7 linked regions of the Homo sapiens genome follow. The protein of the gene in region 7 purifies or fractionates together with the protein of the main gene of each other region. This does not show direct contact. Each region holds a gene or a part of one and is shown on either strand. Other genes may lie near its edges. The genes, in order: CDC5L, XAB2, RBM22, CWF19L2, ESS2, GPATCH1 and USB1.

The links.
Region 1: the proteins of USB1 (region 7) and CDC5L purify together in Homo sapiens (affinity purification with mass spectrometry; 4 studies listed by BioGRID and IntAct, with this or other methods). This does not show direct contact.
Region 2: the proteins of USB1 (region 7) and XAB2 purify together in Homo sapiens (affinity purification with mass spectrometry; 3 studies listed by BioGRID and IntAct, with this or other methods). This does not show direct contact.
Region 3: the proteins of USB1 (region 7) and RBM22 purify together in Homo sapiens (affinity purification with mass spectrometry; 3 studies listed by BioGRID and IntAct, with this or other methods). This does not show direct contact.
Region 4: the proteins of USB1 (region 7) and CWF19L2 purify together in Homo sapiens (affinity purification with mass spectrometry; 3 studies listed by BioGRID and IntAct, with this or other methods). This does not show direct contact.
Region 5: the proteins of USB1 (region 7) and ESS2 purify together in Homo sapiens (affinity purification with mass spectrometry; 2 studies listed by BioGRID and IntAct, with this or other methods). This does not show direct contact.
Region 6: the proteins of USB1 (region 7) and GPATCH1 purify together in Homo sapiens (affinity purification with mass spectrometry; 3 studies listed by BioGRID and IntAct, with this or other methods). This does not show direct contact.

What each region holds. Positions count from the first base shown.
Region 1 is NC_000006.12:44,390,590-44,394,578, reverse strand, and holds part of CDC5L (cell division cycle 5-like protein), read right to left. Parts: intron 1,913-3,989; coding exon 1,751-1,912; intron 1,134-1,750; coding exon 1,006-1,133; intron 1-1,005.
Region 2 is NC_000019.10:7,622,749-7,626,737, forward strand, and holds part of XAB2 (pre-mRNA-splicing factor SYF1), read right to left. Parts: intron 3,523-3,989; coding exon 3,388-3,522; intron 3,297-3,387; coding exon 3,132-3,296; intron 1,698-3,131; coding exon 1,553-1,697; intron 1,135-1,552; coding exon 983-1,134; intron 542-982; coding exon 422-541; intron 146-421; coding exon 14-145; intron 1-13. UniProt on the Homo sapiens protein: Involved in pre-mRNA splicing as component of the spliceosome. Involved in transcription-coupled repair (TCR), transcription and pre-mRNA splicing.
Region 3 is NC_000005.10:150,690,707-150,694,695, forward strand, and holds the end of RBM22 (pre-mRNA-splicing factor RBM22), read right to left. Parts: intron 3,535-3,989; coding exon 3,370-3,534; intron 2,602-3,369; coding exon 2,513-2,601; intron 2,321-2,512; coding exon 2,189-2,320; intron 1,176-2,188; coding exon 1,045-1,175; 3' UTR 86-1,044; downstream 1-85. UniProt on the Homo sapiens protein: Required for pre-mRNA splicing as component of the activated spliceosome. Involved in the first step of pre-mRNA splicing.
Region 4 is NC_000011.10:107,325,488-107,328,942, forward strand, and holds the end of CWF19L2 (CWF19-like protein 2), read right to left. Parts: intron 1,567-3,455; coding exon 1,423-1,566; 3' UTR 873-1,422; downstream 1-872.
Region 5 is NC_000022.11:19,134,600-19,138,588, forward strand, and holds part of ESS2 (splicing factor ESS-2 homolog), read right to left. Parts: intron 3,881-3,989; coding exon of another isoform or gene 3,821-3,880; exon of another isoform or gene 3,719-3,820; coding exon 3,616-3,718; intron 2,834-3,615; coding exon 2,724-2,833; intron 2,348-2,723; exon of another isoform or gene 1,740-2,347; intron 1,661-1,739; exon of another isoform or gene 1,610-1,660; intron 577-1,609; coding exon 461-576; intron 1-460. UniProt on the Homo sapiens protein: May be involved in pre-mRNA splicing.
Region 6 is NC_000019.10:33,115,489-33,119,477, reverse strand, and holds part of GPATCH1 (G patch domain-containing protein 1), read right to left. Parts: intron 1,932-3,989; exon of another isoform or gene 1,811-1,931; intron 1,654-1,810; coding exon 1,437-1,653; intron 469-1,436; coding exon 361-468; intron 1-360.
Region 7 is NC_000016.10:58,017,918-58,022,118, forward strand, and holds the end of USB1 (U6 snRNA phosphodiesterase 1), read left to right. Parts: intron 1-1,054; coding exon 1,055-1,138; intron 1,139-2,223; coding exon 2,224-2,328; 3' UTR 2,329-3,701; downstream 3,702-4,201. UniProt on the Homo sapiens protein: 3'-5' RNA exonuclease that trims the 3' end of oligo(U) and oligo(A) tracts of the pre-U6 small nuclear RNA (snRNA) molecule, leading to the formation of a mature U6 snRNA 3' end-terminated with a 2',3'-cyclic phosphate.

The sequences.
Region 1 (3,989 bases), on a different chromosome or scaffold from region 7:
CAGTCCACATTTTCTTTATCCATTCACCCATTAATGGACACTTAGGTTGATTCCATATACTTTCTATTGTGGAATTCCTGATTCAATGCCTCCCAGAATCACTGTTAAGTCTCCATCACCGTCTCACAGGTTGCCTTCTCACACAGAATAAATAACTTGCCTATAGTCAAATAAGTAATTAATAGGAGGACTGAGGTCCAATATTCTGACTTGATGTCTCTCTCCATGGAATAGGAATGAGAAACAGGATCTTCAAGGGCTCACCTCTAGCCTCTGAAAAATCTACTCAGTAGAATTACACTACTCAGTTTTAAAGACAGGGTCTCGTTATGCTGCCCAGGCTGGCCTCCAACTTCTGGGCTCAAGGGGTTATGTTGCCCAGACTGGCCTCCAACTCCTGGGCTAAAGAGATCGACCCACCTCAACTTCCTTAGCAGCTAGCACTACAGGCACATACCACCACACCCCGTAACACTTAATTAACTTAATTAACTGAATTGAAGAAACAGAAGATGAAGGGGCGCTGTTCAGAAAAAGCAACTACTCTATAACAGAAAACACTGGACATATTTGGAAAGATACTTAGAATAAGAACACTGCTGACAGAATTGGGGATCAGGTATGGTGGCTCACACCTATAATCTCAACACTTTTGGAGGCAGAAAAGGGAGGATAGCTTAAGCCCAGGAGTTTGAGACCAGCCTGGGTAACACAGGGAGACCCCATCTCTACAAAAAAATTTAAAAATTAGCCAGGTATGGCGGCATAAACCTGTAGTCCCAACTACTCAGGAGGCTGAGATGGGAGGATTGCTTAAGCCCAGGAGGTCAAAACCGCAGTGAACCATGATTGTGCCACTTCATTCCAGCCTGGGTAACAGAGCAAGACCTTGTCTCAAAAAAAAAAGGGATTCTAAAGTAGAGGAGTTCAGAAAGGAACTAAAAGAGTGAGGCCCAAGGAGTTTACAGTTACCAAAGAAATAAATTCCTCAAAGCATACACTTACCCTCATCCATATCAATTGGATCAGGCCGCGCTGGTTTTGTTTCTGGATTTGGATCTATTTCTCCAGGTTTAAGTTTTCGTGGATCATCTGTTGTTTCCTCTTCATTGTCTCTTTGGGCAGCTTTATCCCTAGAAAAAAGCCCATAGGAGTTAGTCACACTACAGTACCATTTAGAGTTAAAATTACCAGATTTCCAAGTTCTGACGATATTTTTCCCCCCAAAAAAACCAATGGATGGGCTTTAACAACATAAAGCCTTTTTACTATCACTTCATCTGAAAGAAATGATATTAAAATTTGCTGATTTCAGTGACTGGTTTCAATCACTCTAAAATAGAACCCAAACAGATCCTAATCACAAATGCGGTACAGCCATACAAATTTAAAAAAAAAAAAAAAAAAAAAAAAACTATTAGTAAAGAACCAAAATGTTCCAGTAGTTAATTCTTAGCAGTGTGATTATGGGTGACTTTTATTTGCTCTTTTACTATTTTTTCCCCAGATTTTCTATGATGAACATGCATGACTTGTATAATTCTTTTAAATTATTATTTTAGGAAGTATATGACAGAAGGCATAATTTTGATCAACCATCTGAGATATGGAAAATATTATCCAATGGCTTTAGCTTTGGGTTTACTCACATCCATAATTAAAAGTTTAAAGACAGAAAATACTCAAAGTTTATTCAGCCTCTTTCAGAACATATACATATATTCTATGCTCTTTCTGAAGACTCACTTACAGAAGAAATTCATAGTGTTCTAAGCACTGGGCCGCTGTTCTTCCAATGATTGGAGCAATGGTCCTCCACTGAGTTGGCATCAACTTGGCCAAGTGCAAGAGTTTTTCCTCTTCTTCTCTGGACCATTCTGTCTTCTTAATGCTTGGATCCAGCCATTCATACCTATTAAACATAGATCATTTTATATATTAATCAGTTACCTGGCATAAATATCCAATTTGCACAATGGATACACTGACTTGTGCTCTCATCCTTCAATTACAAAAACTGTTCTTTTTGACAACAGAATATTTGCTGTGTGGTTACACTTACCCCAGTCAATATTCCCCATCTCATCACATTCTATTTTATTTTAATTATGCAAGATTAGTAATGGTTAAAAAAGGTTACTTCACTGAATCATGATCATAAGCCTTCTTTCTCATCTATCATGTTTTTATTTATTTACGCTTTTCTAGAAATTTTGAAATATTTGGAAGACAATACAAAATCACGTTTCTTACAGTGTTTCCAGTTTTCATACTATTTTCTCATGCTTTGATTCTCACACCATGGCTTATTTCTTTAAGCATTTGACTTACACTCACTAAATTCACCGTAACCTTTCATTTGATATGTTTTAAAATTTAAGTAAAACTACTATGACATTCCCTCTGTCTTTCCTAATTCCCCACCCAGCCCACCTTTTCCATCCAGTCTACTTAGCTGGATGACAGGCAGGCAAACAGGACTTAAGTCCTACCAAATATGACAGCAGGAACTGGTACCACTAAGACAAACAGAAATCAGAACGACTTCTTCAGCCTAAAAATCATCTTCCTCTTAACAGCCAATTTCTACATTCAAAAAGCCTCACTCTGTCGCCCAGGCTGGAGTGCAGTGGCAGCATCTCAGCTCACTACAACCTCCACCTCCTGGGTTCAACCGATCCTCCCACCTCAGCCTCCCAAGTAGCCACCACGCCTGGCTAATTTTTGTACTTTTAGAAGAGACGGGGTTTTCACCATGTTGGCCAGGCTGGTCTCAAACTCCTGACCTCAGGTGATCCCAGCCTTGGCCTCCCGAAGTGCTAGGCTTACAGATGTGAGCCACCACGCCTGGCCAATTTCTACATTCTGATACTTTCCCCTAACCAGGTGCCTAGGAAATTAGGTCATTCTTATACAATCCAAAGTATTTTCCTAATGCCACATGACTTGGGGATGGTGCTAAATAACTCATGCCAAGAACACCCTAAATAGCTTCACGTGTCCACTACCCTATGATTTAAGAGGTGACACCAGCCGGGCGCGGTGGCTCACGCCTGTAATCCCAGCACTCTGGGAGGCCGAGGTGGATGGATCACGAGGTCAGGAGATCAAGACCATCCTGGCTAACACGGCGAAACTCCGTCTCTACTAAAAATACAAAAAATTAGCCGGGAATGGTGGCAGGAGCCTGTAGTCCCAGCTACTCAGGAGGCTATGGCAGAAGAATGGCGTGAACCCGGGAGGCAAAGCTTGCAGTGAGCTGAGATCACGCCACTGCACTCCAGCCTGGGCGACAGAGCAAGACTCCGTCCCAAAAAATAAAAATAAAAAAGAGGTGACACCACAGGTTCAGAGTTGGCTTATATCTTTTAATATATATAACATATTAAATATGTTTAATATATACAATATATAACATATTAAATATGTTTAATATATAATATATAACATATTAAATATGTTTAATATATAATATATAACATATTAAATGTTTAATATATAATATATAACATATTAAATATGTTTAATATATAATATATAACATATTAAATATGTTTAATATATAATATATAACATATTAAATATGTTTAATATATAATATATAACATATTAAATATGTTTAATATATAATATATAACATATTAAATATGTTTAATATATAATATATAACATTAAGTATGTTTAATATATAATATATAACATATTAACTATAAAATATATAATATTTCAACTGTATTATGAGGAAACTCAACTACTGTAGGCTTACTTAGAAAATTAGCCATTATTTATCATTTATTTCTTTGAGCAAGTAATTTCTAAAACAGCTAACTTATGCACTTTTAGAACACAATTAATTTACAAGCTGGGGCTCATCTGTCCCTGAAAGTAGACTTTGTATGCTTCACAAAGCACTCTCAAATACATTAACCCATTTAGATGACAACTCACATCTCTATCAGTCAGGACCAAGTATTATTATCCCTAATTGG
Region 2 (3,989 bases), on a different chromosome or scaffold from region 7:
GGCCTGTTCTCACTCGCAGCAGCCGCAAGGCCTCATCGTAGTTCTCGTGTCGGAGCTCCAGCTCTCCGCACTGACACCACACGCTTGCCAGGTCATCCACCTGCTTGAAGTTCACCTTGGTGGCCTTCTCCAGGATGACACGGGCCTGCCGGGGCGGGCAGAGGCGAGGCTGAGACCCTGCCCACCTGGACAGCTCCCACCATCAAGGGTCAGAAAGGTGACCATGCTCACAAACATACAGGCACAAACACACAGGCACACACACAGGCACACACATGCGTGCACATATGCATGCACCCAAATGCACATGCACACACACGTGCACACATCCATGCACAAATATGTACACACACATACATGCACACATATACAAGCACACACACATGCATGAACACACAGGCACACGCAACAGGGTGCTCACATCGTCCAGCTGTCCGTTGTCCTCATAAAACTTGGCAAACGCCACCCACAGAGTGTGGGGCTTGCCTGTGGCCTTGAAGGGGTCCACCGTCTGCACAGCCTCTGTGTAGGTGTTGATGATCTGGGGACAGGAGGGAGGAGGTCATATAGGACTCAGGACCCTGCAGATGACGGTCGGGGCAGAGCTGTGGCTCTGAGGGGTGGGGCCTGGAGGGTGCTGTGGCCCCTGTCGGGAGAGGCCAGAAACGAACTATGGCCCTTGACAATGGTCAGGACCAAGAGAGAGCTGTGGCCCTAAGGGGCGGGGCCAGGAGAGAGCTGTGACCCTCCAAGGGGCGGGGCCACGAGGGAGCTGTGGCCCTCCAAGGGGTGGGGCCAGGAGGGACTGTGGCTCTGAGGGGCGGGGCTCGGGCAGGAGGAGAACCCCAAGAACAGGGGTGGAATTGGACCTACTAAGCAAAGTCAGGCCCCTAGAAGGTGACATTATGGGTGAAGGTGGGTGGCTCCCCAGTTCTGCAGGAAACTGGCCCTCAGGGGTAGGACTGGGGCAGGCTTCATGTACCTCCCGGGGGCGGCCCTGGTGCAGGGCGACACGCTTGTGCCACTCGTGCACGTGGTGTGGGTTTTGGCGCAGCAAGACGCTGTTGAGGAGCAGGGGCCGCCGGCTGATGAGCTGCTCGAAGCGGGCCAGGCGCAGCTCCAGGTCCACATCATCTGGGAGCCGCGAACATGTTTGTCAGGGGCGGAGACCCAGGATGCAGGTCCCCGGATGCCACCGCCTCCACTCCCCACCCTCACTCCGCTCCAGCCCCCAGCCAAGTGCTCTGGGCCCTAGACACTCAGCTCGGGTGTCCACCTGAGCCCCACCCCCAGCCCCAGGTACTGTGGATACCCCCTCCTACCCCCACTGTTCCCCTAGCCCTCCTGCCCTGCCAGGCTCTGGCCCAGGCCTGAGAAGTGTCCCCATTCCTGGCTCCTTCAAGACCCCCACACCCCCTGCATCCACTCAGCCTCCTTCCCTGCTGGCCCCCAGCTGAGCCTCCCAGGGCTGCCTCACCTGAGATGTGTCCCGCCCCTACCGCTAATGTCCACTCAGCTCTCTCCCCACCAGCCGGGGCCCCCAGAGGCTCACCCTCCTCCTCGCGCCCCAGCTCCGAGGCGGTCTCCATCTTTGCAGCGATCATGCTCTCCTCGAACTGGGCGTAGCTGTCAAACACCTGTGTGAAGTCCCGCACGGTCATCACTGTCCGGATGGCCTCCTCGTACACGTCCCGAGCCTGTGGGGACCCAGGGAAGGGGAGGTGAGAGGAAAGTGGCGCAGGGGACAGGCAGCAGCACTCTTAGCACCAGCCTCAATGTGGAACCCCTGGGGGCCTTCTGGGTAGTGACGCATCCAGCACCTCTGGGTAGTGACCCCAGGACAGAGCCTCCGTGGAGCCTTCTCACCCCCGCCCTGCCCTGCACTGCCAGGGTGGTCTTGGGAGCTTCAGGACCTCCTCAGTAAACTGGGTGACTGCCCTTTGCACACAGTGACCTCAGGGCTCGACTGAGACACATGTGTGAAGCACTTGGCACCCAATAGGTGGCCAAAAACCCCCCAGCGCCTATGGGTCCACCCTGCAGGGACCCTCGCCTCAGCTCATCCTCCGAGGCCTCAGAATTTGCTCCAAAGCGTCCCTCTCGCTTGCCTGACCCTCTTCCCCAGCCCGCCTGTCCTCCACCTGGCTCGCCCACCCCAGCTCAGGTCCCCTCTCTCTACCCAGCCCTGACGGGTCTTGCCCTGCTGCCTCCGACAGCCTTGGCCTACACGTGCCCCTGGAAGGGGCGCTGCGAAGCGCATACCGCCCACACCCCACTGGCGGCTCCCCCAGCCAGGAGCATGGCCAGCCCGTTTGGCTTTCGAGGCTCCCAACCTATCTTCCCTGGGTTCCTGAGCCTCCCCGCTCTCGGCTCTGGCCCCCTCTGCACCCACCTGCCCCCAGGCCATCCCCTGAGCTTGCCACTCCACTGCCTGCCAAGAGCCACAGTCAGCTAACCCCTGAGGGAGTGGCCCTCACACCACGTACCTCCTCAGTGCTGTGCCTGCGTCACTGAGCTGATTGGTGACAGGCAGTAACTGTCACCCTGATTTTACAAATGAAGACACCCCACCTTAGTGGGGCCAAGGCCGCAGAGCCAGAGGGTGAACCCTGAACGCAAATGTGGCTGACTCCAAGGCTGACGTGCCTGCGGGCAGGAGTGCTCCCCCACCCTCAGCAGGATAGTAATCGTGTGCAGGGATATGCATGTCTGTCAAAAATGGCACTTTTTTTTTTTTTTTTTTTTTTTGAGATGGAGTCTCGCTCTGCCACCCAGGCTGGACTTCCGTGGCGCGATCGCAGCTCACGGCAACCTCCACCTCCCAAGTTCAAGCGATTCTCCTGCCTCAGCCTCCCGAGTAGCTGGGATTACAGGCGCGCACCACCATGTCTGACTAATTTTTGTATTTTTAGTAGTGATGGGGTTTCACCATGTTGGCCAGGCTGGTCTTGAACTGCTGACCTCAAGTGATCCTACCGCCTCGGCCTCCCAAAGTGCTGGGATGACAGGTGTGAGCCACCACACCCAGCCATAAATGGCATGTTTTCTGCCTGTGCATGTGTCAACATGTGTCCCCGAGTGTCGGAGGGAGACCCCGCCCCGAACCCAGAGCCCCGTGTGCCAGCATGCACCTTCTCGAAATGGCCGCTGCGGATGTAGTAGTCGGCGAGAGAACACCAGAGCTTGCCCAGCTGGTCGGTGAAGCGGGTGAGGCCCCCGCGGATGATGGCGTCCACATTGAGGGACTGTACCTTGTCCGGATTCTGGGAGATGAGGTCGCACAGCTCGTGCCACAGCTGCAGGGCATGGGGCAGTGGGGGAGAGTCTCAGGCTCAGTCATGGAGGGGGTGGCCCTCCCACCCAGTTGCCGGCTCCCGGCAGGCCCACCTGGTAGTTGGACTTGCCGGCCTTAGACACGAAACGCTCGTCGTTCACCACGGTGGCCAGGCGCTGGGCGGCCTCATCCAGCCGGTCACTTGACTTGAGGTACTCAATGTACTCCTCTGCACTCTCAGGACTCAGCTGGGGACCGAGCCACCCCTCAGGCAGTCAGTGGGGTGGCAGGGCTACGCCCACCTCCCGATTCAGTGGCTTCGGGGCGTCCCCCCCCACCCATTTATGAGTGTCTTGGGCAAAAGCAAGCCCTGTCAAACCAGCCTCAGCCCCACTGGTCCAGCCCGGTTCCTACTGGTCTAGCCTTGGCCCCACTGGGTTAGGCTCAACCCCCTGTGGGTCCTGCCTTGGCTCCACTGGTCCAGCCTCAGTCCTGACTAGACCAGCTGTGGACTTTTTGGGTTAGCCTTGACCCGCAAGGGCACAGCCTTGACTGCGGTGGTCCAGTCTCAGCCCCAATGGTCCAGCCTTGGTCCTTTTGGGTTAGAATTGACCCCCAACCCACAATGGGTCCAGCCTTGGCTCCACTAGTCCAGCCTCAGTCCTGACTGGTCTAGCCTTGGCCCCTTTGGGTCAGCCTTGATCCCATGGGTCCA
Region 3 (3,989 bases), on a different chromosome or scaffold from region 7:
CATTTCTATTAAATAACTTCCACTGACCTCGAGTTCAGCTACCAAAGGATAAAGAGGAATCTAGAAATAAACCCATGACAACATGTGAAAAATTGACCCGTTTTAATTATTTAAAAACAAAAAACACATCAAATTTCCTTTACCATCTACAATTCAGTTATATCCAAACACTCTAAGACCAAACAGAAGCAGGGATGACAATGAGACACTGAAGACACACGAAGGTGAATGCTGAAGACCATCAGAGTCCCAGCAGGAGGTCACGTCTTTCATTCAGACGCTCCAATGCTTTTCATTTCAGTTTGTTAAAGAACGTGTTTTACAGGAAGTTCTTTACAGTAATTTCATGCCAGACACCAGGTTTCTTCGATGGTACACAGCTCCATGAAATTTGTGTTTCCATCCAGTTGACAGGAATAAAAAGGAATTTTTATTTTTGTCTTTTTTTGGGCCGTAGAGACGTAAAATGGTCAGATTCCTTTAGGAATAAATGAGGAAAAGGAGAGGAAAGAGAAGATCTGGGCTGTGCTGGTGCTGGTTTCTACTCATCTTTCGGAGGGTGTGACTTCAAGAGTTAAATCACACTTAGGCCACTACAATGATTAGTACTAGTTATCTTTTTTTAAGATGATAAAAAGGAAAGTATCCAATGGACATAAAAATGGTCAAAGGTTTTTTTACTGCAGGTCAATTTTTCCCCCGACCAAAAAATATACAAAATGAACATATAATTGGGAGGGTAACTCTGCTGGACATTCCAATTCACTCATCTGCGTGTCCCCCACACGGGTAAGGGGAACAGGCGTTCGGTTTTATTAGTCATGTTACAGCAGTAACCAGATGTGTTAATGGCAGCTTATTTACGGTCCATCGATCCTTTGAACAAGTATAGGAAAGCATGGCTGTCAGTCTCTGACTGCTCACATCTGAGCACATTCAGCTACCATGGAAACTACAAGGGAAGGAAAAATATATTTATTCCAAGATTTACTGGGAGTTTTAAGTGCCCTTTCTTCCACAGAGCCCCAGAGTGGTGACAAGGTGCTAGGGGCTGCTGTGTTTTCCAGCATGAGCTCCCATCCTCTGAGGGTCCTGAGAAGGATAGTGGATTGGTCCTGGAGCCCGCATGAAAGGAGGGGGTGGTCCCATTGGGTGGAACATGTGTGGCCCAAAACCTGCAGATACGAGAGAACAAATGTGTTAGGCTGGTAGTTTCCTTGATAACCTTTCAAACCTCTCAATCTTGCTAAGGTTAAAACCACCTACACATAAATCAAGGTTGACACGGGGCTTAAGCAAATGTCAGTTCACAAACTTACTTCCACTTGTTATTTCCTTGGTTTTAGAAACCTTTCCCCCACAGTCCAAAAAACTCCACAGCACTCAAGGTATCGCCTAGTATGTCATCTGAGTCTCTGCTATGTATCCAACATGCCAAATCCTACCAGACAGGATTCAGTCAGGATTTGGGAGATAAGAAAGAAATCAGGCTGATGGCAAAGACTGTGTCATCATTAACCTCAATGCTTGACACCAGAATGGAGGGTGCTCAGAAACCAGATTCTCTTCAGAGTATGGGCTCTCTGCCACAGGAGAACTGGCTACCTGTGATTTCCTTCCACTGTTAACACTGTCTACAGCAGTGCTATACGAAGTGCCAGTCCTCCACCTATTTCTGGCCACTCAAGACAAAGAGCTTGAGTCAAAATGTAAATTATACGACCAGGCACAGTTTAGTTCATCTGACAGTTTTTTTGGTAACAAGACTTTCTCAATGAAGGAAGGGGTTCACTGATTACATTTTGGCACAAGCTCCTGATCTTGTGGCAGACAGGTGATAAACACTTTGTAAAATGACACCCGCTCACAGCCCACACTGGGCAATAGTGCTCTAGGGCATCCATTAGCATTTAGTTTAGAAAAGGGAACAAATTGGTGATAGATCTTTGTAATCTAATAATCTTACTCTGCTGACACATATACGCGGATCTTTAGAAAACTGGCCCCTTTCTTCTCCTCGGCAGAGCAGGAGAAAGAAAAATTTCAGAAATCCCAACAGATCAACTTTACTGGTAGACTTCTACAGAGCAAACTCACAGGATTTGGATGTGTTGAACATGATGGTGAGGTTTATGAGACAGAACTTTCACAAGGATTTCTCTGGGCTAAGAAGGAAGATGGAAGTTACCTGGGGGTGGGGGTGGAGCAATGCCAGGGGGCGGTGGCAGAGCAATGTTCACCACAGCTGGAGGACCACTTGGGGGCAAGTTGAAGTAGTTGGCAGAGGCTTCTTCTTCTGCTGCAGGAGGAGGAGGAAGAGCTGGAGGAGAGAAAATAGTCAACACATAGAGGGGAGAACAATTGTGCAACGCTGTTTCTACCACCTTTACATTCTCAGAGGTCCTACTGGGAGAGTAGAGCGGCAACATGAACCAGACCTGGGTCCCATCTTCCAAAATAGGAACATCAGGGCAGAAAGAGCTTCTGAAGTCAGCAGGGAGTCTGCACTCACCTCCTGGCAATCCTGGAACAGGTTCTAGTTTGATCCCAGAGTCTGTAGTTCCATCTTTCTCTTTTTCTTTTCCTCTGGCTGCCTGGGATCTGGGAAACACACATGCATACAGTCGGCACTCTGGCCCACCTTATCTCACACCTCTGCTTCTTACATTCCCCAGTCCAATGGAGTTCCTTCGCTCTACCTCCTCCTCAGCACACACTCTTTTCCCATAAATGCCACTGTGCACAGTGAACAAGAGCAAAGGTTTTGACACCAGAAAAGACCTGGGTTCAAAAGCTGCTAGAACTATCATAAGGACCAGAAAAGGCAACACATACGTGTTTAGCACAGTGCTTACCACATAGGGAGCGCTCCACAAAGGCAGATGCTGCTATTAGCCATCACTTCCCTGGTTCCAAGTTGGAGACATGTTCCCCCTTTGAACTGGGTCTTTCACCTGTGTCTCTCTTATGCAATCATCACTTTTAAACTTAAAATAGCGATTCTTCCCTGTTTTATCTTCTCCACTGGACAATCAGCCTCTAAGGGCAGAATCTAGGTCTAATTCATTTATAAACCCTAAAATTCACCTTTCATGGCCTGGCATTATACTTGGCCTATAATAGCTAGTCACAAAAACATGAACCTTCAAAGGAGTAGATTATACACCAACCCCCTGAATACATTTCCAAAGCAGGGTTCTCCCAACATCCACAGGAATCAAGTATCACATAGAGAGTGATCTTTGAAAGATCTCTTTAAAGATCCTGTTCATTTAAGCCTGTTAACCAAAAGCCTACTAGTCTCCAGAAAATGAAATAGTTTCTTAAAAATCTAAGCAAAATGTCACTTAAAAATAGTTTAATTCTCACCTTCCCCATTTCACATTCAGTCTGCGGCCATTTACAATCAACTTATTAAAGGACTTCTCAGCAGCCACTTCTGCAGCCTGCCGTGTGGCAAACTGGATGAAAGCACACTGCTGTCTCTGCACAACAGTGATCGTCCGGATCTCTCCGAACTGGTAGAAATGATTTCTGAAGGGAAACAGGCAGAGAAAAATGAAAGTGGGAGTTAAAAAAGATGTACCCAGGAGACTGAAAATGGATTAACTTTCACTGACACACCACTAGGCAGGTGGGCCCCAAGGTTATCTGCCTAACTACCCGCAGGTCTCCACCCCATATCTTGTCCTACTGTGGGTGCTGCTGATTGAGAGAAGGAAAGAAAAATAATGAGTAAATAAAGGTTCTCAAACATCTCAGGGTTTTTTCCCATGGAGGAAAGGGGGTTCTAATAGGTTCTTTAAAGACCCTAAACCCTAGATAAGAGGTTGGCAAACCATAGCTCTCAAGGCCCATGAGCCAAGAAAGTTTAAAACAAGAATACGTGACAGAGACTGCATGTGGCCCACAATGCCTAAAATATTCACCATCCAGCCTCTTACAGCGAAAGTCTGCCAACCCCTGGGGGTTGTCTAGCTCACTTAGAT
Region 4 (3,455 bases), on a different chromosome or scaffold from region 7:
AGTTGAACAATGAAAACACATGGACACAGGGAGGGGAACATCACACACCGGGGCCTGTCAGGGGGTCGGGGGGCTAGGGAGGGATAGCATTAGGAGAAATACCTAATGTGGATGATGGGTTGATGGGTGCAGCAAACCACCATGTCACATGCATACCTATATAACAAAACTGCACGTTCTGCACATGTACCCCAGAACTTAAAATATAATTTAAAAAAGAGAAGAAACAATGTGTAGAGTTATAAGTTACAGTGGAGCACACCTCACACTGAATCTAGGTATCCAACATTTCATACAAAAAGGTTCAGCTTCCAAAAAGCCAATAGCTGAAAAAAAAGTTACTACAACAATAATTTCCATTAAGAAAAAGAAAAGTAGGAGCACTCAAAACATAAAAACCCTATACTTACAAAATATGACTATGGTGTGAGTTGAGAACAAATAAAAATTACGTTCCTTGGATCAAGTAAGGGACAACAGAATGTCCCATACTCTCATCCAGGCATGGTGGCTCATACCTGCAATCCCAGCACTTTGGGAAGCTGAAACAGGAGGATAGCTTGAGACTAGGAGTTCAAGGCTACAGTGAACTATGATTGGGCCACTGCACTCCAGCCTGGGTGACAAAGCCAGACTCTGTCTTAATAAATAAAAACAAAACAAAAAGATAAATAAATAAAAACTCTCATTACTTAAGATTTTACGACAATCAGTACAACTCAAAACCAATGATTTGGCTATAAATTTTAACTTTCATGCAAACCCCAAACAACCCTAAAATATGTTATTTGGAAGAATTACTTTTAGAACCACCAAAATTCAAAGATACTATTTAAAAATCCAGAAATAAAAACAAATTTGAATCATACAAATTTTCAGTATCATTTAATTCTTTAATACTTTGGGGACATTTCCTTTTCCTTTAACAAAAAGAATAGAAGTGATACTATATACTGCTAGTAGAAAATTAAGAGCTTTTCTATAAAATCCTATGAAATTAAAATTAAATCGTCTTATTTTTAAAAATGCAAAAGAAGCCAGACAGTAGACTTAACAACCATGAAGCAGACCCACTTCCCTCTGAACCAAGGATTTCCTATGCTTTTTAGATATCCCTTCAGAAAAGGCCTTCTCTAAATTAACTGAACAATTCGGAATACCAAGAAGTAGGTAGAGAGCAGGAATGTGAGCAGATCATCGAATATATGTTTTTACTCCATGGTGACTAAAATGAAGTCCATAGATAGGAGCAGGTGAAGAAGAAAACAACACAATCTCCTGATGTACAGTTGTCACTGACCCAGAGCAGTCTGCTGCTGTGACTCTCTCTGCCTGTGACCTGAGGGTCAGTTGCTTCATTAGATGCAATGGAAATAAAACTGAACGGGATCTGAAGAAAAATTTTAAAATGGAAGGTACACCTCAATAGTTTTTACTTTTGGTGAAGTCATATGGTTTCCACCACTGAGCAAACTGCAGTGCTTTTTTCCTCTGATCCTCAAAGCTTTCTCGGATGCCTTTCCTCCAAAGTCTTGGTTCTATATCCAGCATCCCACCTATGATTTCCTTTTAAAGAAAGAGAAAAGCACAAACACAAGCATGTATAAATAATGAAAACAGAAATGAAACTATTTCTGTTTATTCTGCTATAAAATATAACAAGTTCTTCTCCATGACAATGTTCAAGCATAAATACTAGTTGAAGTTAAAAAAATATGTTTTCAGTTAATTCTAACTAGGCAAACCGTGTGATTCTAAGAGTCCAAGTTAGCTGCATCTCCTATCAAGCAATTTGTCCATTTTGTTGCTTATTAGCACATCTACTAGATGGTAACAAAGGGGAGGGAAAACAAGTGAAATTTAATTAATATGATCTCTATTAGAGGCTCCCGTAAACAATTTTGCAAAAATGTTAATCAACTTCTAGCAATTATTAACTTTACTGCTCAACTGCAGTTGAATCCCAAGCTAATGTTCTCTCTCTGCTACCAAGTATATTTATAAATTAGTTTCTTCCACTATTAGCAGAAATCTTTTTTCATGAAACAAAATCCTATTGTAATACTAGTTTAAGTAAACCTATTGATAGAATTAAAAATTATATATCACTTTCATTTAAAAAATCACATTCTCAAGTCCCATAATAAATGGCTTTTTGGTTATCTGATTATTATTCTTGATTTCCTTCATGATCCTCTTCCTGTGCTGTTAGCTATAGAAATAAATCAAATTTAGGCATGTGAGTATCCATGAACAGAAAGACATGGGGGAGCCTCCTAATGCTTAAATGCTTAGAGGGAGGGCAGTATGGTAACAAAGCAAAAAACAAAAAACAAAACAACAACAACAAAAAACAGACTAAGGATCAAATTCTGCATAGTCGGTCTAGCTCCACCAGACTGTGTGGTGAGATCCTGCACAAACCACATAATCTTTCAGATGCAGGTTCTTCATCTTACTTAGGGACCTACTATGCAGAAGCAAATGCCGTATGTTGTAGGGGATACAGAGATTGTGGGGTGAAGACACACAGTTGTCTTCAGACAGAATAGAATCTGGAGCTGTGGTGGGAGGAATAATAATCCAGCTATGCAGCAGACTGTCTCATAAAGTAGAAGGTAAGTGTCAAAGCAGACCATTTGTGGAGACTCAAAAAAAAAAAAAAAAAAACAATCTATTTGTTGGCCAGACCAGGAGATGCTTCATGGAAAAGGGAATCTCCTGTCATCAGGGAAGGGAAATAAAGGGGTCAACAGAGATAGTAGAAAAGAGAAATAGGGCAAATTGAGATTTAGTTCAAGAGTTTCTCAGCATCGGTCCAAATAAGCAATGTAGTTTAAGAAAGCCTAGCTTATAAAAGTTTACCTAAAATTGTCTATAAAATACCAAGTTTTGTCTTACATCTACCATATAAGCTTGACTCTTGTTCTGTTATCAAAGCAGCTGTTAATGGAAAGACTATCCCCATAATCTCTTCTTGCTCTCTGAACAACTGCTTCAGCAGCAGACTGCAGGGAGGTCTTGAGCCCACAGGCTATTTCTTAAAAAGCAAATTTTGAGGAAAATGGCTCAGTGACGCAATGCTGACAGAGAAAATTTACTTTTAACTCCAAAACTGAATCATATAAACCAGAATGCATGAATAATATGTGAAGAAAGGGCAATCTCCCAGTTTAATATATACAACTTTTTAAAAATGGATATTTTACTTCCTTTTTTCTAGGACCAAATTTTTGTTTTGTTTTGTTTTTCTGTTTTTGTTTTTAATAAATCCAGCCATAGAGCTTTTGGTTATAAAGCTCTACTGTATAACAACAGGATTTTTCAGAACAGTGAAAACACATTTCTTTCTAGTTAAAAAAAATTCTGAACACTTCTCAAACTTGTTTCTGTAATATGTTATAACAGTTCAAAGATGCATGTTACTTTGTTATGCTGGTTAACCCACTAAGGAC
Region 5 (3,989 bases), on a different chromosome or scaffold from region 7:
GGTACTGCCAGCATGGCAGCAAATGCGGGGGATCCCTGAGGTCAAACAGCAGCGCTCAGGTCAAACCTGAGGTCAAACAGCAGCACCGCCCTTGGCTGTGGGGGCTGGGGTGCACCCCCAGGCCTCTGAGAGTTGGAGTCCCCACCCCTCTCCAAGGGGAACGATGACTCTCTCCACAGGGCTGATGAAAGCTCCCAGCAGGACCACACGCCTAAAGATGCCTCTTAGGGACGGGTCAAAGAGGACGTGGAGGAAAGAGAAGATGGAGGGGGCCTCTCATCCTGTCCATGTGCGGCCATGCTCTGGATAGAGGAGCTGCCACAGTACCCACTGCAGAACCCCGCGGACCTGCCCTGGACTCTGCCGCGTGGGCCATGCCTCCACACGGTCAGGGCAGGGGCCGAACAGGAGCAGGCCAGAGCCACCCTCGCACTTCCCCACCAGCCAGGCGGCCCCTCACCTGGCCAGATTCTCCGTCACTCTCCGCAAGGCTTCCTGCTTCTTGGCCCGGTTCTTGGCAGCGGCCTCGTTGGCCATCTTCAGACCCAGCCGCTCCCTGCGGCCTGGCTCCAGGATCTACAAGGTAGCAGGTGTGTGGGTAGCTGCGCCAGGCCTGCCACACGCCAGGCAGCCCCTCACACAGAAAGCCACTGTGGTGGGTGCCAGCCTCTCTTTGTTGCCTACAAAACCCCCACAACCCATCACCTCCCACTAAAAGCCCCTGGAAAGCCCCAAACCCCACCTGACCTGCCCAAGGCGCAGCACTCCTCACCTGTCTTCGTGTTCCTCCCAAAACCATGACCTCTGACAATCTCTCAGGAAAAAGCAGTCTGTTTTAGTGTTTCCCTGATTATCAGAGTGAACATCTCTGTCTTTATCGGCGCTCTGTATTTCGGGCGCTTCCCCGTGTGCCTGTGGCCTATTTTGCTCTCAAGGGGCTCATTTTCCTTTTCTGCTGCTGTTACTCAGAAGACCCTTGCCAAGACCTTGTGTCAAGTCAACTGTGCTACGCTGTGCACATGTTTTTTCACTCATTTACATTTGTTTCATTTATAACATTTTCTGCTGTATTTGTTATTTTCATTTGTGATTTCTTCCTTTGCTTTTATGTTTAGAAAGTCCCTCCTAACTTAAGATTAGACTACAGGCTGGGAGTGGTGGCTCACACCTGGAACCTCAGCACTTTGGGAGGCCAAGGTGGGAGGATCACTTGAGCTCAGGCATTGGAGACCAGCCTGAGCAAAATGACAAGACCTCATTTCTACACACACACACACAAAATTAGCTGGGCATGGTGGTGTATGCTGTTAGTCCCAGCTACACAGGAGGCTGAGGCTGGAAGGTCATTTGAGCCCAGGAGCTCAATGTTACAATCAGCTATGATTGCACCACTGTTCTCCAGCCTGGGCAACAGAGTGAAACCCTATCTGTTAAAAAAAAAAAAAAAAAAAAAAAAGAGGCGAGGCACAGTGGCTCACGCCTGTAATCCCAGCACTTTGGGAGGCTGAGGTGGGTGGATCACGAGGTCAGGAGTTCGAAACCAGTCTGGCCAAGGAGTTCGAGACCAGTCTGGCCAACATGGTGAAACCCCATCTCTACTAAAAATACAAAAATAAGCCGGGCGTGGTGGCACGCGCCTGTAGTCCCAGTTACTTGGGAGGTTGAGGCAGGAGAATCACTTGAACCCAAAAATCAAACTAAATATTCGCCACTATTTTCTAGTCCCAGTTACTTGGGAGGTTGAGGCAGGAGAATCACTTGAACCCAAAAATCAAACTAAATATTCGCCACTATTTTCTTCTGGTTGTTTTATGGTTATTGTTTTTACATGTAACCTTTTCACCTTTCCACAATGTATGCTGCTACACATCCTGAGGACCCAGCTCCCTTCATTTCTAAATACTCTGCTATTCAGTGCAATCTGAGTTGCCATCTTTATCGGGCCCCAAATTCTGACTTGGATCATGGTTTGTTTCAGAATTTATCTGTTTACTGTTGGCCTGGAGACTCGGGAAGCAGTGGCAGGCATACCTCAGAAGCACCTCAGCCCTTGCCTTGCGCTCTCACATTGGACAGCACGGCATCCTCTTCATTATCCCTCTCGCACGTTTGCCTTGGTTATCCTTGTGTCCCAGACAATTTAGAACCAAGGTAACCAGAACCTCTCCCCATGTTTTGTCTGGACATGGGTTACCTGTACTAAGTATTCTGGGGAAAGGCCCGCAGTGGTATGGGGAGGCCTGTTGTATCTGACCCAGCCCACGAAGAGCCTCCCCTGGTCTGTGCCGGGCCTCACACACTCCACCCTGACCACTCCTACAACACCAGGCTTGAGCCGTGTAATCCAGCGTGTCCCAATCGTGTTCTGTAACCAGGGGCCTTCTCTACAAGCACACAGCCTCGTCCTATGGCCCTCAGGCCTGCAGAGCTCCTCACGTGTCTGTGACCATCCTGCCTCATTCATGAACAGCACCCGGCCTCCAGGATCCAGAGGGCCCAAGCCACTCCCTGCCTTGGTGTCTCAGCCCTTACACCCCCAAATCCCTCTGTGACAGGTCCACCCACCCACACCTGCCTTCAGCACCCTGGCATTCAGAAAAGCCAGCACTCTGCCCGTCAGCAGCTGGGGGCCGATCCCAGTGCTCAGTCCTGAGCCACAGGCACTCAGGGCTCCAGAGGTGTCCACCCCGGTCGCACACAGTTCCCCCATCACCACAACCCACCTTAAAAGCTGGGCCGGGTGTCCTGTCCACGTAGGGCGTTTCCGACCCTTCAACTCTCAAGGGTGTGTTCTCAACCTCCCCCCAGGTCATCATCGGGGACTCGTTCACACCTGCAGACAAAGAGCCCAAAACCACCTCAGGCCAGAGGACTCCCCACCACCCTCCCCTCCAGTCACAGCTTGTTCACCCAATGTGCATCCCAGCTAATACGAAGGCAGGCAGCTAGCCCTCTCTCCTTCCCCAGGACTCTGGAACCCTGGCACCTCCATCCTCCGAAAGGGAAATGCCAAGCTCCCAGCAGGCCCGAGGCAGGCTCAAGGCCCTACAGCCATGTGCTTAGCCTACAAGCCTCTGGGAGGTCTCCCCCAGCCACGCAGGAGGAGACACTCAGGCCTTCCAGGGCTCCCAAACCTCCTAGAACCCCAGGCAAACCTGTGGTGCCTTCACATGCCCTGGCGTGTGACACAGCACCAGCACCCAAGAGCACAGAGGCCAGAGTGCAGAGGGACACCCACGCATGCCACAAGACCACCTGAGTTTCACCTCCACTGAGGTGCTGGGCCTCCCTCCCTGCAGTGCTAGGTAGACTTAGACTCATAAGCACTGTGCACACACCCCCACCCACTGACATCACAGTAAGGACCAGGACAGGACACGTCATCCCAGGATGTCTCAGGCCAGGTCTGCCTGAGAGTCCAGCCCACCCACGGCCCCAAGCAGCCTGGACACCTGGCCTCTAGGGCCTTGTACAGACAGGAGACCAGGTCCCTGAGTTACACAAGGTGTGGGGCAGGCCAGGTAGAGGCCAGGAGTGGCCAGGGCCGACTGAGAAGCCCACCTCCCCCAGGGAGTCCCAGCAGTAGACCCACTTGCCAGTGGGCACTTTTCTCACCAGGGGCAGGGGAAGGAGTGGCAACAAATCCAAATCCACCCACTCGAGGGGACTCCTGGGGGATCAGCTCCTTGCCATCGGGGCCCACCTTGCCCTGTTTGTGCTGGAACAAGCAGAGAGGCTGGCATCAGGGGGACCGCAGCCCACGCTCGACAGCTGGCCGGTGGGCAAACACGTGGGAACATGCTGGAAACACTTCCTCTCCTCAGGGCAAGGCTGGGGCTCTGGGGTTGGCAGCCTTCTTGGAGAAAGAGAGGGAGGGCCCCTGCCCCAACCCCCCAAAAGACCTTGAGGGCCTGTCAAAGTGGGTACCCAAGCAAGGAAAGCCCCCTCCTCCCATCCAGGGAGGTGCCAGGGCCTCCACTCGAGCTGCG
Region 6 (3,989 bases), on a different chromosome or scaffold from region 7:
TCCGCCCACCTCGGCCTCCCAAAGTGCTGGGATTACAGGCATGAGCCACTGTGCCCGGCCAGGCTCTTTTTCTTTAAGCTCTGTTGGGAAACTTATATTTCTATAACAAAACTTAAGATACTTAGGACCCTCCTGTAAACATGTGGCAGGTAAAGGAAATAAAGTTTGGAGGTCTCTGAAGGTGTATAGAAACAACTATCATTTCAGGCACTAGGTGGAGACAACGGGTTTAAAATATGACTGAAAACATATAAACCAGAAGCAAGCACGTATGTTTGGTCGGCTCTAAGTCACACTGTCCCCATCTCAGGGCAATCACACACTGATAAAAATGGGCGAACCAAAGGGCTCTGCACTCACTGGGGCAGAAGACGGGAGGCAGCCGCGGGCCGAACTCTTCTCTTTCATCTATCTGCATCTTTTGTATCGGGAAGGAAGGTGGCGGCTCCTGGGGTGCTGGCACAAGAGCTGAAAAACAGCGGGGTGTTCATGTCATTCGTCTGCCCCATGTTAATGTCTCTGAGTCTTTCATTCATGTCTTTTGCCACCAGATAACATATGCTTGCCCACACCACTTCACTCCTGCCAGGTGCTAAGGATGCAGCAGTGAACACGCAGACCCCGGTGCTGCCCTTGTGAACTCCAGAGCTGGAAGTCAGTCACACGAGGGCACCTGCAACCAAGGGCAGCAATGGCTGAGGTACAGCGTGCCAAGTGCACCCGTGGGCACGTAGCCTAGCGCCCCTAAGACCTGAAAAGTAGAAATGTGTCCCCAAGAAAGGGCCATCTGAGAAGGAAAATCTTACAAACCATCAGGAATGTAAGACTATGTATGTCCCATCACAGAGAACTGCGGGAGACAAGTTTCACTCAAAATAAATTATCAAAGAAAAAACCTTGAAGATAAATGATCATATTCACGTTAATAATCTTGTTTTTTAAGCAGATTACTATATATTCAGATAGAAGAGATATAAAAATTTTAAAAGTCTGGAAAACTAGCCGGGCACTGGGATTATGCCTGTAATCCCAGCACTTTGGGAGGCTGAGGTGGGCAGATCACCTGAGGTCAGGAGTTAGAGACTAGCCTGGCCAACATGGTGAAACCCCATCTCTACTAAAAATACAAAAATTAGCCAGGGGTGGTGGCACATTCCTGTAGTCCCAGCTACTCAGGAGGCTGAAGTGGGAGGATTGCTTGAGCCCAGGAGGTGGAAGCTGCAGTGAGCCGAAGATTGCGCCACTGTACTCCACCCTGGGGACAGAGCCAGATCCTGTTTCCAAAAAAAAAAAAAAAAAAATTATATACATATAAAAGATTACATATCATTGATTGCTAATCATTCGGGTTTAAGATTATAGAGTAAACAGAGAAGCAGCTGTCCTAGAGTCATTGTCTTCTCCTTTAGATCCCCGAGTCTGAAATACTGACATACCGTGAGCCACAGATGATGTTTCCCCCAAGTCAGTGTCTTGGGAGCTTTGGAAGTTGGCCTCCCCAGAGCCTGCCTGATCATCTTCACTGTCACCTTGCTCATCCTCGGAGGATGAGGACTTTTCATCTGAGGAACTGGCAAAGATGGCCCTGAATAAGTCCATGGATGGGCGGCTCCCTTCTCCTTCAGCCTGTGCGTCCACATCTTTGTTGACGGTCTGTATTGACAGTGAAATAAGAGTCAGGGATACAGAGGCAAGGGTAAAAGGGAGGAGACATTCTAGAATACACTCCCAGACACACATATTTATGTTTATGCTCATGTACATGGGTATCCATAGCCACACACCACCCAACTAAACAGTGATCACTCACATAGCTTCTATTTTTGTGGTGTTTCCGAGTCAACAACTGTACAATGTGCTGATGAGGTCAAAGAAGCAAAACCGGGCCAGGCGTGGTGGCTCACCCCTGTAATTCCAGCACTTTGGGAGGCCTAGGCGGGTGGATCACAAGGTCAGGAGATCGAGACCATCCTGGCCAAAATGGTGAAACCCTGTCTCTACTAAAAGTACAAAAATTAGCTGGGCATGGTGGTGGGCGTCTGTAATCCCAGCTACTAGGATCCCCAAAAATGCAGTAGAGCACTGTGCCTCTGTTCTATTTCCAAACTCAGATTCAGGCAACTTAACAAACCCCAAACAAAATAAACTCAAAAGAATTCACACCCAGATACATCATAATCAAACCGCTAAAATCCAAAGACCAAGTAAAAATCTTGAAAGCAGCTAGGAGAAAAATCACATCATTATGTACAGAGGAATAATAATTTGTTTTGGGGTTTTTTGAGCCAGGGTCTCACTCTGTCACCCAGGCTGGAAAGCAATGGTGCGATCATAGCACACTGCAGTGTTGACCTCCTGGGCTCAAGTGATCCTCCAACCGTAGCCCCTTGAGTAGCTGGGACCACAGGTGCATGCCACCACACCCAACTAGTTTTTTAATTTTTTGTAAAAGATGGGGTCTCACGATGTTGCCCAGGGTAGTCTCAAACTCCTAGCCTCAAACAAGCCCCCTGCCTCAGCCTCCCAAAGTGCTGGGATTATAGATGTGAGCCAACACACCCAGCCTGAGGACAATTTGAATGGTTGAAGATTTCTCATCAGAAATCACGAAACCCCGGAGGAAGTAGCAGTTTAATTTAAAAAAAAATTGGCCATGCGCAGTGGCTCACGCCTGTAATCCCAGCACTTTGGGAGGCCGAGGCGGGTGGATCACGAGGTCAGGAGATCGAGACCATCCTGGCTAACACAGTAAAACCCCGTCTCTACTAAAAATACAAAAAATTAGCCAGGCGTGGTGGCGGGCGCCTGTAGTCCCAGCTACTCGGGAGGCTGAGGCAGGAGAATGGCGTGAACCTGGGAGGTGGAGCTTGCAGTGAGCTGAGATCGCGCCACTGCCCTCCAGCCTGGGTGACAGAGCGAGACTCCGTCTCAAAAAACAAACAAACAAAACAAAACAAAAATTATCAACCCAGAATTCTATATCCAGCAAAAACATCCTTCAGGAATGAAGACAAAATATAAGACATTCTCAGATAATGGCAATTTAAGAGAATCACTTGTTGGAACTGGTCTAAAAGAAATGCTAAAGGAAGTTCCTCAGACAGAAATGATAGGTGAGGGGAACGTGGAACTTCAAGGATGAAGAAAGAGCAACAGAAATAGAAAATATCTGATTAAACAGAGTAGGCTATTGTCTCTGCATCGGTTCTTTTAAAATATGTTTAATGACTAAAAGCAAAAATGATCACCACTGGTTTGATGGCATTTTCATTGTGTGTACATGTAATATGTAAGACAGCATAGAGGGAGGAGAGTAAAAGGACCTACATAGTGCTAAAGCTTCTCTATTCTACTGGAAGTGGTAAAACATTTAATTCTCAGTAGACTGTAAAAAGGTAAGTAGGTATACTATAATCCCTAGAGCAATCACTAAAAAAAAAATACCAAGAGAAAAAAAATAGAAAAATTCAAATGGAATATAAAAATTATTCAAGTAATCCAAAAGAAGGCAGAGAAGGGGAAAAAAAGAAACAAAAAAGAGTGGTAATAAACAGAAAATATAACATCATACACGTAAATCCAAAAATATCCATGATCACATTAAATGCAAATGTCCAATATAAATTATCAAAATGTATTTTAAGAAAGACTCAGTGACACGGTGTTTATAAGAAACCCACTTTAGCCAGGCGCGGTGGCTTATGCCTGTAATCCCAGCACTTTGGGGAGGCTGAGGCGGGCAGATCACCTAAGGTCAAGAGTTTAAGACCAGCCTGACCAACATGGAGAAACCCCGTCTCTACTAAAAATACAAAATTAGCCAGGCATGGTGGTGCCTGCCTGTAATCCCAGCTACTCAGGAGGCTGAGGCAGGGGAATTGCTTGAACCCGGGAGGCAGAGGTTGCGGTGAGCCGAGACAGTGCCATTGTACTCCAGCCTGGGCAAGAAGAGTAAAACTTCATCTCAAAAAAAAAAAAAGAAACCCACT
Region 7 (4,201 bases):
ATGAATTTGAATGGAGACAATTATTGTTGCTTCAAAACTTGAGACTTTGGGGATTTTGTTCATGTCATCTGAAAAGTATGGTGTATACTGGAATGTCCTAGATCAGAATAGAGGGTGGATTTTCTTTCATGTCACAGATGTAATGACCCTCTGATACTTCAGGGAAAGCCTCTGTGAATACGACTGTCTTAGCTCAGGCTGTCATAACAAAATACCATAGACTGGGTGGCCTAAATAACAGAAATTTATTTTTGCACAGTTCTGGAGGCTAGAAGTCCAAGATCAAGGTGACAGCATGGTTGATGTCTTTTTTTTTTTTTTTTTTTGGAGACAGAGTCTTACTCTGTCGCCCATGCTGGAGTGCAGTGGCGCAATCTCAGCTCCCTGCAACCTCCGCCTCCCAGGTTCAAGCAATTCTGCCTCAGTCTCCCAAGTGGCTGGGACTACATGTGTACAACACCACGCCCAGCTAATTTTTGTATTTTTAGTAGAGACGGGGTTTCACCATGTTGGCCAGGCTGGTCTCAAACTCCTGACCTCAGGTGATCTGCCTGCCTTGGCCTCTCAAAGTGCTAGGATTACAGGTGTGAGCCACTGCACCCGGCCAAGCGTGGTCGGTTTCTGGTGAGGGTTCTTCCTGGCATATAGATGGCCGCCTTCACATGGCGGGGCAGGGGTTGGGGGCTACAGAGAGAGAGAGCAGTGCCCAAGCTCTCTGTGATTAAAGGGCACTAATCATGAGGGTCCTGCCCTCATGACCTCATCTAACCCTAATTACCCCTCAAAGGCCCCATCTTTACATACTATCACATTGGGGGTTAGGGCTACATGAATTTGGGGGAGGTGACACGATTCAGTCCATAGCAAGGACCAGTCCTGTGCTGTTTTGTCTGTCTGTGGAGGGTGCTTGGGATCAACACTGAGTATCTTGTCTCCCACTGGGCAGGCCAGGGATCCAGCAGGGATGTCACGACAGCTCTGTCACAGACCTGCTGTGAGGGCAGGGCCTGCCAAGGCGTCCGGGTGACTGCCTGCCTCTCGTTTCCCTCCCCAGGATCCTTCTTTCCACCTCAGCCTGGCCTGGTGTGTGGGTGATGCACGTCTCCAGCTGGAGGGGCAGTGCCTGCAGGAACTACAGGTGAATTTCCAGGGCGGGAGCACAGAGGGCGCTGAACTCCAGAAATGACAGGACAGATGCTGGAGAGGGGGAGGATGAGGCACCCAAACCTGAATCCCTGGGAAACAAATGACATGGCAGGAGACCCCAACACCTTCCCTTGTGACTCAAGGTGTGGCCCCTGGACCAGCAGCTTCAGTGTCACCTGAAGCTTATTAACAACACAGATCTTTGCCCCCACCCCCACCAAGACCTAAGAAATCAGAATTACATTTTAACAAGATCTCTGGGGATTTGTGTGCACATTACAGTTCTAGGGAGCACTGCCCTAGAACACTGATCTGCGAGGAGGCTGCAGGCTTTCCCTGAAGTCCTAGCCACTTGCCCAGAGGTCAGAGGCTTGGGCCTGGCACTGAAAATGGGTGAAATGTACCAGGGGTAAGGAACATCCAGCCCCCAGAGTCTATCAGATTTTGATAAGTAGCTGAAAGATTCCACTTTCCCATCTGCGCCCTTGGAGGAGAACCAGCAAGTTACATGAAGTGGTAAGCGGCGGCTGATACTCCAGCCCTGGTTGGGGAGACAGTAGGGAGTGTGGCCATGCGGGAAGATTGGCCTAGAGTTGCCAGCACTTCTGTTTCATAAGAGAAGCCAGAAACCTAGATTTTTACATGTAATCTGTCAGTTTTCAAATGTCAGCAACTAATTTGGATGTTTAAAAAACATTTTGCAACCAAACCAAACGTGCAGGCTGGATGCAGCTGTGGTCCCTCGTTAAGGAGCCACCTTGCGCTTGGCCTGATGTTGCTGGAGGTGGCAAAGAGCTCTAGTTTGGGCTCCGGCAGACCTGGGTCCCAGGCCTGGTTTTATTGGTTTCTGTGATCCAGGGCTCTGAGCATCTGTGTCCTCATCTGTAAAGTTGAGATGATAGGACCAACCTCAGAGATTACAGAAGTGATCAGACAAGATCACCAATGCAGAGCCTGGAGCCTGCAGCCTCAGCCTCGCCCAGCCTCTGAAGTTGGGTGAGCTGGTTTTGTTTGCAGTGCCCTGTGGGTCCCAGATGCCCCTTAATGTGACTGTCCTCCCCTGGCTGCTGTTTTAAGGCAATCGTGGATGGGTTTGAAGATGCTGAGGTGCTGCTGCGCGTGCACACTGAGCAAGTCCGCTGCAAGTCTGGGAACAAGTTCTTCTCGATGCCTTTGAAGTGAGCACCAGAGGCCTTCCTCCTCCAGGGCCCTCTGCAGACCAGGCTGAGATGGAGGAACCTGCTAAAATCGATGGAGATGCTTCTAGCCTCCCAGTAGGAGGCCCCAGCCATGCCTTCAACCTGGCAGGAGGTGTAGCCACTCCTCATCCTCCCTGAGTGCTGATATTCTCTCTCTCTCTTTCTCTTCCTCTTCTTTCTCTCTCTTCTCCTCTCTTTCTCTCCTCTGTCTCTCTTCCTCTCCTCTCTTCCTCTCTTCTCTCTTCCTCTCCTCTCTCTCTTCCTCTTCTCTCTCTTCCCCTCCTGTCTCTCCTCCCCTCCTCTCTTCCTCTCCTCTCTCTTCCTCTCCTCTCTCTACCCCTCCTGTCTCTCCTCCCCTCCTCTCTCTTCCTCTCCTCTCTCTCTTCCTCTCCTCTCTCTTCCCTTCCTGTCTCTCTTCCCCTCCTCTCTCTCTTCCTGTCCTCTATCTCTTCCCCTCCTCTATCTCTTCCTCTCCTCTCTCTCTTCCTCTCCTCTCTCTCTCTTGCTTTCTTCTCTCTCTCCTGTCTCGGCTGTTGTGGGTTGCAGGTTGGGTGCTGCTGTTGTGGTCCTTCCCAGAAACTGCCAGTAGAGGGCAGCCTGGGCATCCTAATGCTTACTCTGGTTGTTACACAAAGAAAATATTGGGGTCACTGGCGAGCCCACCCACACTCACCAGAATCTCCACTGTAGTCCCCCTAACAAACAGCCCTTCACTTCCTCTCCCACTTCAGCAATTTGTATTTTGATGCCATTGGCCTCAGATCAGAGTGTTTTAAATCATCACGCCCTGGCTTATCCCTGGTCGAGCCAGGACACGGGGTGCTTCAGTGGGTCTGTCACCCTCTCTCCTTGAAGCATGTTGCTTTTATTTATTTACTTTTACTCTCACCCTGCTCCTGTACCAGCAGGGGCCACTTCAAAGCCAAGGTACAGGGTGATAACTTGTGGTCCAGCATCAGTTTTCTCCACTTCTTTCTCCCACTCACCCCCAGCAAGGTGCCTGGGGAGACTTGAGCAGATGTTTCATTTTGGCCTGGCCAGTGGCTGAAAGCCAGGCCTCCAATGCACTGTGACCTCTGGCTTCCCCAGCAGCTTTCCCAGAGAGGCAGAGGGGCCTTCCACAGCCCGGGTTCTCCTGCTGCCTCCTGCCTGCTGCAGCTGCAGGCATTCTGAGGGGCAACGTGGAGGAAGGGCCAGGGATGCATGGGATTTTAATTGTTTCATCACACCTTCCCCGTGGCAAAGAAACAGTCAGTCCTCTTCAGGTGTCTTCTGGATTTCTGGTGATGGACAGAGAAATCTTTTTACAGTTTCAAATTATGTTCAACAAATAAAAATTGCATTTTTTATTTTGGATCTTTTTTGGACTACTTGTATTTAACCCAGTGAAAAGATGACTGTCACCTTCCCCTACCCTGTCCAGCTGTGTCTCACAGTTTGGGAGGATTCTTGGAAGTCTCTGCTGTGACTTCCAAGATGGCCTCGAGAGGCATTAATGATGCTTCAGTAAAATAAGGGTAGGGAGGGGTCACCCAGCCTGCCAGGTGTACACACAGAGTTCTCACATAGGACATCTAGCCTGGAGCTAGGTGGCAGGGGTCACCACCCTCATCCCTCACCCACATAGGCAGACATTGAAGCCTTATACTGCTGTGACACTGAGCACTTCCCAGAACCTTCTCGTGTCTTCCTCCCAGTATCCCCTGAAAGGTAAACAGGGTGGGAATGTCTAGTCCTCTGTTACAAGAACAGGTTAAGTGACTTGCTTGCATGAGAAATAGGGCCGTACTCAGCCCTAACCTCAGGTCCTGTGCTGGGGTGGCCCTGATCCAGCCCTGCACACCACCTCGTGGTCA